Linked DNA regions of Homo sapiens: region 1 is linked to region 2. The links come from fine-mapping of genetic effects on gene expression. A gene starts in region 2. The other region holds a variant in brackets. All regions are shown on one strand. Distances are from middle to middle.

The links. PIP is the estimated chance that this variant, and not a neighbour inherited with it, causes the effect.
Region 1: its variant is the best candidate, but not a certain one, in a credible set for the expression of PDE6H in whole blood (TwinsUK, PIP 0.83).

Annotation. Positions count from the first base shown.
Region 1 is chr12:15,009,868-15,015,251 of GRCh38, forward strand. No RefSeq gene overlaps it. Among named protein-coding and RNA genes, the nearest start is that of LINC01489, 11 kb to the left of the region's middle. The variant GAC/G (reference allele first, on the strand shown) is at 2,207.
Region 2 is chr12:14,970,914-14,976,297 of GRCh38, forward strand. It overlaps PDE6H (phosphodiesterase 6H), which reads left to right and starts at 2,129. Exons shown (of 4, transcript NM_006205.3): 1 at 2,129-2,173.

The DNA of each region.
Region 1 (5,384 bases), 39 kb after region 2:
GATACTCTTCAGCCCAGTACAATGTGTTAATAAGAGAAGGCAGGAGGGAAAGCTTGATCATTTGAACAAATGTTGGTTTATTTTAAGAGAAGTTGTATGGTTCCATGTGGCTAGAATTACTACATCTTCTATTTTGCCATAGTTTTAGCCTTACTTTATAGCTGATTGGAAAAGTCCAGTGACTTCCTTAGGTCTGACTCTATCTCTAAAAAGCCATGCTGACAGATGCCCATTTTACTTGATACAAGATGGAGTATTACCATTGGTCAGGTGAATTCATCAACTTCACTAATCATCTTCCTAAAGAGCAGACAGTATTAAGCATGTCTTGAAAAAAAAACTGCCAAAAAGAAGAACAGAAAGCAAATTGAGCATCGGGAAAAGACTTGGGTCTATAGCGTCAGACAAAACTAAGTTCAATATATACTTAAATAATAATGAGTCTACTAGGTAGACTCATCTAATAGTGCTGCCATGTACTAGTTTACTAATCATAGGATTGTTACTCATGCTCTCTCAGCAGCAGTTTCAGGGTAATTAAATCTACATCAAAGGTTATTTTTAGGATTAAAGAAAGACACAGTCGATATTCAAAAAACATCTACATTAATAACGATAATAATACAGCTGCAAAAAAAGAGTAAGAGGGCTGCAAAAAGAGATGGCATCTAAAATACATTTCTATCTTTACATATTTTTGAAGAAATTTGATCCCATACTCTGAATTCAAGGTGGCGGATGGTGGACTACCTTTGGATGCTGAAACAAGATGTCAGTATTCACTGAGGTGGCAAACCCCCCAGACTCCTCATCCCCTGTAAGCTGTGATTCAGCAGACCTTCATCCTAGCTGTGGCAAAGTGTGGTGTTGAGCCTGCCAGTTCCTGGACCAGGCCTAGCTTTGCCCTCACATGGCACAGATCCCACACTCTGGCCCTCTCTTTTCCCACAACAATTTTGATTTGTAGGCAGGATAATCATAAAAGTTCAAAGGAAATGAGAAATTGCTACTTAGAAGAATAAGATGATGTGTGGAAGGTAGAAAATTTCTAAGTAGCCATCCAACCCAGCTGGGTAGGATCTGACCGTCAGGTTGGTTGGTTGGTTTTTTACCACCAGATGTTAGGTCAGCTTCTTGCTCAGTGCCTCTCAGTCACTTATCTTAGTCCCTGGCTTCCAAACTAGAGGACCTGGGTCATCATTGGAATTTGCCATAGCTTAGGTCTGGGCCTGGCTAAGTCCACAAAAATCTAGTACAGCATCAGAGAAACTTCTGCTAAATAGTTATTCCACACCCAGTTTTGGTTTCTGTAGTTCAGGTCTCTGGTCTTCTGTTATAGGCTCCTTGGTAGATCTCTTGCCTCTCCTGTTCTTGGCCACACATGAAGAACACCACCATCACCACTAGCCTAGCCCACAGGCTCTGGCCCTGACATTGGCTTGTGCTTTAGAGTGCTCAGGCCATGCTGTCTTTTTAACAAATGTTCACTAGGGGCAGTACTCTGAAAGGTTTAAAGCCACTGTGTACATTTCTACTAGGTAGACTCATCTAATCTCTAAATAGTAATTTATTACAAAGGCAACTTGCATACTTTCACATGAAGTTCTTATTTGATTATGTTAATTAGACTTTCAGGACAAAACAGGTCACAATACTTATTTCACACTCACCAGGTCTAGAATATTTTACTGGGATCTGTGGGAAGGTAAAATAGATGTAGCTTCTGCTTTGTGGAGGTCAAAATTGTACTTTATTTTTCTTGAATACCCCTCCCTCAACCTTCCATTTTGAAAACAATCAAGAAAAATGTCCTGTCACATAGTTCTCTCTACTCCCTTTATCTTTCTTTGAAATATCGACTATTCTTCTGCTAACAGCAAAATATTTTCCAAGCATAACAATAAATTTTTCCTTGCCAAAGGAAAACAAGGCCAACCATTGGAAGAGACCCCAAGACTAAGTTACAGCTAATATAGCACCGAACCCCTCTTTTCTCAGCGTGATCTTTAAGTTTTGGACTTTGAATGAAAGACCAAGGGGAAATTGTTTTATGTTTTATATACTACACTAGTTATATGTTTCATATATAACTACTGGTCCGGATAGCATGTTATCTAAGAAAAAGAACTTCTATCACCTTTAAATACTTGAAAATAATTTCCAGCTGTCTCTCTTCCTCTGATAGTCATAAACACAGACACACACA[GAC/G]ACACACACACACACACACACACACACACACACACAGAGAGAGAGAGAGAGAGAGAGCGAGAGACAGAGAGACAGAGAGACAGAAAGAGAGAGCTTTACCACAATTGATTATGGAAAAAATCACAATTGATTATGGAAAGAAGAAATGCTAGGAGAGCTCAGGCCCATTTATCTCAGTAGATGAACAAGATTGTAACTGCTATTATGTCCTCAGAACTTCATATAGTTCTGGTCCTGCAGTACTAAAAGGAAGGAAAAGAAGTGATGTAAGTACACGTAATGTTCTTGTTAACATAAAAAAGCAGTAAGAGAGAAAAGATAAAAATATAGTGCCTCAGCAGCTGGAAAGTGCCCAAGTGGAGTGTAGAAAAGTGTCCAGTGAAAAACAAGGGACCAGAAAGTAAATGAAGAGGGGTGCTTGGATTCAGCTAAGTGGGACAGAAAGGATTTCTTTAGGTTGAGAGAATTGGAGTTGGAAAGTAAGAAGTCTAAGGAAAATGTTCTTTCAAAAAACATGTTAGAATTAAGTGATTATAACTCACTCAAAATATCACAAATATATGTCATGAACATGGAAGTGGTTGGGAGGACAAAGGGTCAAAGGACTTCTTTGTTCTTTGAGTGGGTCCCACATGATTGAAGAGGAGGAACCAAGAACAGAATTGATGATGTTACAGATGGAAGGAAGGAAGTTTGTAGCTGAGAGCAAATTGTTCTTTGTCCTTGAGATAAAATGAAAATTTGCTCTACTGGTTAAAAATTTACATGACACACATCCCAGAATGAATGTAAAAATGTTTTTGACAGAAGGAATGGAATTAGAAGGTCCACGACTCCAATTGAACTAGATAGAGCAGATCAGGCGTCTCACATTTGCACTCACATCTCTGACATGTGTTACCCACCATGGGATACTACATCAAAAATATTTAGTGTATTTTATTCTTAAGTCTGTTTTCCACACATAATGATCTTATGTTATTGCTTGGGACACATTTGCTCCGAGCTCACGTCTCGAAGCAGGAGTCCCATTGTGGGGCATACTCATACCAAACCTTCAGTGATTCTGAGAAGAACTCTGTGCTCACGTTCTCTTTTCTGCCTTCCTCTCACAGCAAGTCTTAGTTATATTGCCACAAAGCAGTTTACGTGACTTTACTGTGTCAAGAATGATCAGTTAACACACTCAAAGTAGGCTATTGTCTCTGTGACCTGACTAATGGGCCCACCCCACACTTTCGTACATGCCAGTTTGAAACCTACTATCTTCTTCAACCACCATGATGATAGAAAGTCTTGGCATTGGTTACTCCTTTCGGGAAATGCTGGTAATAAACATTGTAGGATGGATTATTGTTCTAAGCCAAGGTTTCTCAACCTTGACATTGGAGGCACTATCGACATTAGGCACGAAGTATTTCTACTTAGTATTTGGGGGGCTGTCCTGTGCATTGCAGGATGGCAGCCAGCATCTCTGGCTTCCACCCAATATGTGCCAGTAGCATAAAATGTCTCCAGACACTGCCAAATGTCCCCCAGGGAGAAAAACTGCCCTGATTGAGAACCACTGCAGTAAACTATTATCTCCCATCAGCTCCTTATAAATTGAACTTGCAGCAGTCTAGCAAGGCATTGAGAGAACGAGAGGTGTCTGAAGCTCAGGAAAATCTGCAGCTCAGAGAGCATCAGAAAATGGCTAGAAAGGGTAGGTCTGAACTGACTGTCACAGGGCAGGGACTTTCAGAGAGTCACAAGGAGATTGGATGAGGAAAAGACAGACAGGGATGAGGGGCATAAAGAAAGGCAACTGAAAAGAAGAAGAAATATTGAGAGCAATATGGCCTTCACTATAGGGCTTTCCTAGAAAACCAGAGGGGGAATCCATAACGGGCAGTCAGAAAACCAAGGTTCTGGTTTCAATTTCACTCTCCTGTTAGTTTTTAGATCACTTATGCTTGGTTTCCTTACCTATAAAACGTGGCTATGTTTCCAGACCTGATTATCTCAGATTGCTATATTAAGGCAATAATGGGAACATTCTCTGTAGATGTGTTTATAAAAGCGTCAAGAATTGCTATTTTTGTGCAGTTGTGCCTCACATATAAGTCAGATGGCTGAGAGGAAGTAACTCAAAATTACTGGGGGCCTGAGGATAGAGAGTCTGCTCGTGGCCAGAGTGGCCTCATGCAGTTTGTTGAAAACCCAGGTCATGCTTCCTCACCTAACCCTGGATGCCTGGGCATCAGGAGCAGTTATGAGGGGTATCCAGGAGTATAAAGTAATATCTGAGTAGATGGGAGAGTGAAATTCAACTGTTAGCATTTTTCATACCAAGGAATTTTTATTAATCTCAATTTACACTTGTGGGGTTTCCAAAAGTGGAGATCTCAGTAAATCTTAGCAATAGGCCATGGTATAGTCTGTACTGCTTGAGTTCTACGGTGGAAAGGAGAATACCTGCCTACCAAAAACTTAGAAAAATATTTTAGGTAAACTGGATACAGAATAATTATGGATTTTTTTTCTCATATTCCATATGGAGAGCTGATAAAATCATCCTCAAAGCATTTTTCTTTTAAATTTAAGACTCAGGTTATCTAGCAAACAAGATGGAAACAAGTGAAAATACCAGTTTGGAAACTAAAGCAAAAAGATCCTTTGGAAATTCCTAAAACTGTTTTGAGGATCAGTTCAAGTTTGAAAGAAAGATTTAGTGCTTATTTTTTTCAACTCTTATAAAAATGACTAAACACATTCGTCCTCTGAAGTAGACTCCAGACTTTTGCACCTGGCCAAAAGGAAGAAACACTTCAGCTCAGATCAACCCAGTTTTTACTGGAATACTTGCGGCAGAACTGAGAAGTGCAGGTATAAGCACAATGACTGGATTATTCCCATCTTCTGCTTATTTAAGAAGTTAGGCATTATTCTTTCTCATTTGCAGACTTTCTGTTTACTAAACTACAAATAAAAGTGTGCAGAGATATGCTTCAGGTTTCCTATTTCTGAAATGCTGTTGGAGATTGCAATTGTACTAAGTTGGAAATTGAGAACTTAATTATTTTAAAATCTAGTCAAGTGAGAGGGAACTATCAACTGCAGAGATACCAGAGTTTTTTGACATTGTTCCTGGCCTTTGGGGATGAAGTCTAACACTCCCCTTTTACAGTTCTCCC
Region 2 (5,384 bases):
GAAACTTCCTGCCATATTGTTCCTCGCATCTAAAGCCTGTCTTTGGTTTTTCTTCTCTCAAATATTTTGAAATATTCCATATTTCTGTCATATATAGTATCCAGGATTTTTAGCTGTACTTAGCAAGAGGCATGAGAGGAAATGTGTCTACTTTACTTGGTCCAAAACAAGAAGGAACATAGATTTTTAAGACTGTAGAGTAATTTAAGAATTTTCTAATTCTAAACCCCTGAGAACCATATTAGAGTGGCTTTAGGAGAATTTTTCAAACTATACACCTAGACTTTCTCCACACTCCTAATCTCTCCCTCTTCTCTCTCCTGGATTTCCTTTGGAGGAAGAAGACTTATGGCACAACCACCCCCATATTCAAAAATTGAGAATCTGAGAATTGCAAGATTATCTTTCTCAAGTGTACTGGGATGGAAAAAAATTGAGAACCCCAACACTCTAAATCATTCATTTTACATATGAGGAAACTGAGACTCAGAGAGGTGACATATAGCAGATAAGTGGTAAACCCAAGCTTGCATATGGGTCTAGAACAGTACTTTTCAAACATTAATATGCAAACACATCACCTTGGACCTTGTTAAAAAGCAGATTCTGATTCGGTAAGTATGGAGCAGGGCTGAAATCCTGCATTTTTAACAAGTGCACAGATGGTGTTGCTGCTGCTGCACTTTGAGTAACAACATTCTAGAACATTCACTCAGCTTTTGGCACTTTCCACTGTCCTTAAAATTTGTATTCTTTCATCAAGAAAATGGAGAATATGTAAAAGTTTGACAGATAAGCATCTGAACATTAACGTGCCTGGTATGTAATAGTAAAGGAAGATGTGAATGGTAATGGAGATACAGAGGAGGGAGCAGAGGGACTCATCCAGAGACCAAACACTTTCCTGGCTTTGCAAGGTAATCATTGCTTTCAAAACTCAGAGGAATTTTGGTAAAGACCAGTGGAGAGCATATGAATGACTCTCAAGCTGTCTAGTTGCTCATGTAATCTGCTTAGGGCTGCAGGTTAAGAACCTCTCCCTGTCTAGAAAGGATAAATTGACCTTCTTTCTCTGTAATGTTATGGAGTGTAATTTTCTAATAGGTAACAACTGGGGAAAGAACATTGAAATTCACTGGCAAGGCATGGAAGTGACCAGCAAACAGACATCTTGGTCTCTGTCTGCTTTGATGTAGTGCAGCACAAAGACAATTGAATATGCAAGGTACTTCCAGATTTGGGCCCTGTTCCTGGCTCCACTATTAATTTTATTTGCAGTCTTGAATAGGTCACTTAATCTTTCTATGATAAATTTATCAAAAGAGCTTACTGATAACTACCATATGGGTTGAGATCTATTTAAAATACAAAAAGTATTAATCTATTAATAATTAATACTAGTGGATCAATAAAATAGGAAGACTGAGTCAAGGAGTCTCAGTAAATTGGATTGTACCCTAGACCCTACACCCTGAAACATTTAGGTACGGAAGATCCAGCAATCGATTCTCAAATAAGTGTCCTCAGTTAACAATTCCTAGCTGTCATTTGGGCCCTTTCTGTGTCAGATATCAGTTTTGACTCTGAGGTTCCATCTCTCTGAGGAAATTCGCACAATACCAGTTAGGGAGACATACTGTGTGTTTCCCAATGTCACTGCCCGCATGTTCAATGTCCCTGTATAGCAGGAGGCACTGTGGCTCCCTCTCTTCTCTCCAGTTATCTAGAGCCCCATAAGAATTATGTCACTGTGTATATGTGTGTGTGTGATTGCGCACATAGGTGTGTGTTTGTCAGAGAAAGGGAAGAAATGGGGGTATTGAAATCTAAAGGTAAGAATAAAAAAAAGACAGAAGATATTGAATCACAAACTGAAATTTACCCTTGGATATCAACACTTTTTGTGTTTTTGTGAATACAATACCTATTTATTGACTGGAATGAACCCAAGTCAGTTTTGAAAGGGCCTCTAATTATTGGAAAACTCCTAAGCCTGTCCCAGCATCAACCCATGTTCTCCTAACTTCTTTGCACCTGGGTTGCTGTTCTGAGCTTATGACGGTGAGATTAGGCAGCATGAGGGTATTACAGAGAGATAAGTCAGGATGCAAAGATCCTTTTGTCTTTTGCAAAGAAGGCAGCTGGGCAGCTGATAGGAACAACATTCAGCTCCGTGAGTACTTCTGAACTTCTGGTGAATTTGAGCAGGATAATTGAAGGGCTTTGGGGGGTTGATCAGGTTCCAAAAGAAAAATTGCAGAAGAAAACATGTTGGACCTGTGGGCCTGGGCTGTGGCTGGGGATGAAAATGGGAAAGAACATGAAGGAGATACATGCAGACCTTCTTGTTATGCCATGGGACAAGCAAATAAGTGAAACTTGATTATTACAAGGTCACTGCAAAACTTGATTACTGAATTCATTTAGAAGGAGCCCAATAGTGACCTCCCTGTTTGCAGCTTCATAGTAAACAGTTTTCTGAAGAAGGAGGAATCTGTGGCACTAAATAACCACAGAGAAAACAGTTCTTTACTCCCAGGATGTGCCTGCAAACTTGGCCCAGGATGGTGTGAGTGTGAGGAAAAGGAGAAGGGGAGCTGAGAGCATGAGAATGACCACAGGGCAGGGCAGGTGGCTGAGCCTTCTCCCTTTGAGGTCAAGTGTTTGTTCCATTCTGAAGCAGGGTGCTGGCTGGAATTTTGGTAATTTTTTTTTTATGGCTTTGGTTTGGGTCTTGCTTTGCTTTTCAAATTATTGATTTTCTCTGCCTCAGCAGGACCCTGGGTGATATTTATGGGCTCAACCCCAGCAGTACTTCCCTTCCCAGCTCCTTCCTGCCTCTTTCTTTGTCCACCAACAATGGACTGGTCTACCTGTCTATAGCTTTGCTGAGAAAAAGAGAACTGGAAGTGTAAGGTGATAACAGCAGCATCAGAGAGCTGTCTCAGGAACCTCCTAAAACTGCTTTTCAGAGGATCATCCTCTGTCACTATATAGAGCTGGGCTTTGCTGTATAAAGAAACAGAAGATGATTTTTTGCTTTATACAAATCTTTAACTTTGTTAAGTTGACCCTAATCCCAGTCCCCTAAAAAAGTATGCCTTGAAATATTACTTTGCTGCATCCACTTATTTCTGCAGAAAAACAGTTTGTAATCTTCAAAAGGGGAAGGGCTAACATTGCTTTAAATACAGGAAAATGTTCTGGCTCACAAAAGAATAAATTGCCTAATGCTTTTGGAGGAAAAAATATGAAACTTCTTTCAGCTAAAATCAAGTCTGATAATACATTTAAGGTTACTCAGCTCCAGATGCCCTTAGAATTTCTAGAAAGGTGTGGTCAGCATGAGGTTAGCCTTTGGTGATGTTTATGGACAACAGGACTGGCTTCCAATGCAGGAAAAGGTCAGAGGTGTTCTACCCTTCCTAAAGGTTTTGCAGAGAGAATTGGAGGGTAAATCTATGACAGAAACTGCATAGGGATTAGTCGACTGTTCCGGTTACCTAGTGCAAATCCTGAGCACCATTAGGATCAAGGGATTAACCTGGCAACTGTTATGTAACTCTTTCTGAGGAGGCTTCTTTCATATAATGCATCATACTCAGACATGAACACTTTCTAAGCCTAGAGGTGTAACTTCAAAATTATGTAAAAATGCAAAAGAAACTTGCAAGAAAAAAGGGGATGTATCATTGGGGAATATGGATGTCACGTGTGATTTTTAAATTCTTCGGGGTTGCTGTTGGGGTGTCAAAGGAATTCAAGGAAAGCTTCTTAAGACAGAATTTTAAGACCAGAAATAAGTTAACAGTCGGGGTGTTTGAAGGAAGCAGAGAATTACCCAGCGAGGGCAGATGATAATTGCCCCTCTGGTGTATGGCAAGGGCCCTTCAGCAGTTGGCCCAGAGGAAGGAGGTGCAGAGTCCAGGTGAACAAGTGTCATAACCACAGATTTGTTTGCATGGCTTTCTTTTCTCTCAGAAGGTCTAGCATATATTTGCCCTTTTTGAACACTTTGTACCACTCTACTTATATTGTCTTCCTAAAATTTCCCCATAACTCTAAAAGGAAGGTCTTGTTTGATTCATTTTATAGATGGAATAAGACCCACAGAGGATTATGAAATTTATCCTAAGTCACGTAGCCAGTTCTGTGGAGTAGGAACTTAAAACTATATCAGTTTGATTCTAAAGAGTGTACTCTCTACCGTGTTACCATCAAAGGACAATTTGACAAATGAGGGTCACTTTAGGCCCTTACATTATAGAACTCTGGATCCAACTCAATTGGATCTTATTAGGGCTGCCAGATAAAAATGAAGGATGCCAGTTCAATTTGAATTCCAGAAAAAAAATGACTTTTTAAAGTATAAATATGTACCATGAAACAGCTGAGATATACTTTACTAAAAAAAATTATTTCTTTGTAATTCAAATTGAACTGGGTGTCTTGTAATTTTTTTTTTTTTGGCTTAATCTGGCAATTCTAACCCTAATAGATTCTTTAGATGAGAGAAAAGAAACTTTTTGATTTCTTCTACCTTGAAAATCCTGGGCAGTTCAAAAACCTTGATCTGAGAGCAATTCTCTAGCTGCCCTCTGTGACTCTGGCAGGGCTGGGATGTGTCAGTTACTGGTGGTCCACTCTGAGCACAGCGCAGATCTTGGCTGCTCACCAGCTATTCCCAGGGTCCCAACCACACTTGGGACAGACACAAGGTTTGCCTGTCTACCGGGGGTAGAGAGGGCCCACAGAACGGGAACTGAATTTAGTGAGCAGAGGAACTGGCAGTGCATTTCCTAAAGCCTGAAAGCTAATGACTTCTCTGTGCTCTGATGGAGAAGTCAAAGGGTCAGGATCTCATGACCAAGGTTTACAGTATTTGTTCAATTTCTTTTGTTTTTTTTTTTTGTTTTTTTTTTTTGGAGACGGGGTCTTGCCCTGTCGCCCAGGCTGGAGTGCAGTGGCACAATCTCAGCTCACTGCAAACTCCACCTCCTGGGTTCACACCATTCTCCTGCCTCAGCCTCCCAAGTAGCTGGGACTACAGGTGCCCGCCACCACACCTGGCTAATCTTTTGTATTTTTAGTAGAGATGGGGTTTCACCGTGTTAGCCAGGATGGTCTTGATCTCCTGACCTCGTGATCCGCCCGCCTCGGCCTCCCAAAGTGCTGGGATTACAGGCGTGAGCCACCGTGCCTGGCCTGTTCAATTTCTAAATTAATTTATTAACTCATTTGACAAATATAATATATATGGCATGATTACTGTACACCATGCACTGTTGTAGGTTCTGAGACTGGAAGGACAGCCTCATGAAGCTAGTCCAGTAGGGGATAAAGGAAGGAATCACAGCATGAGCAGGTGGTCCAGGGTCCTGGCC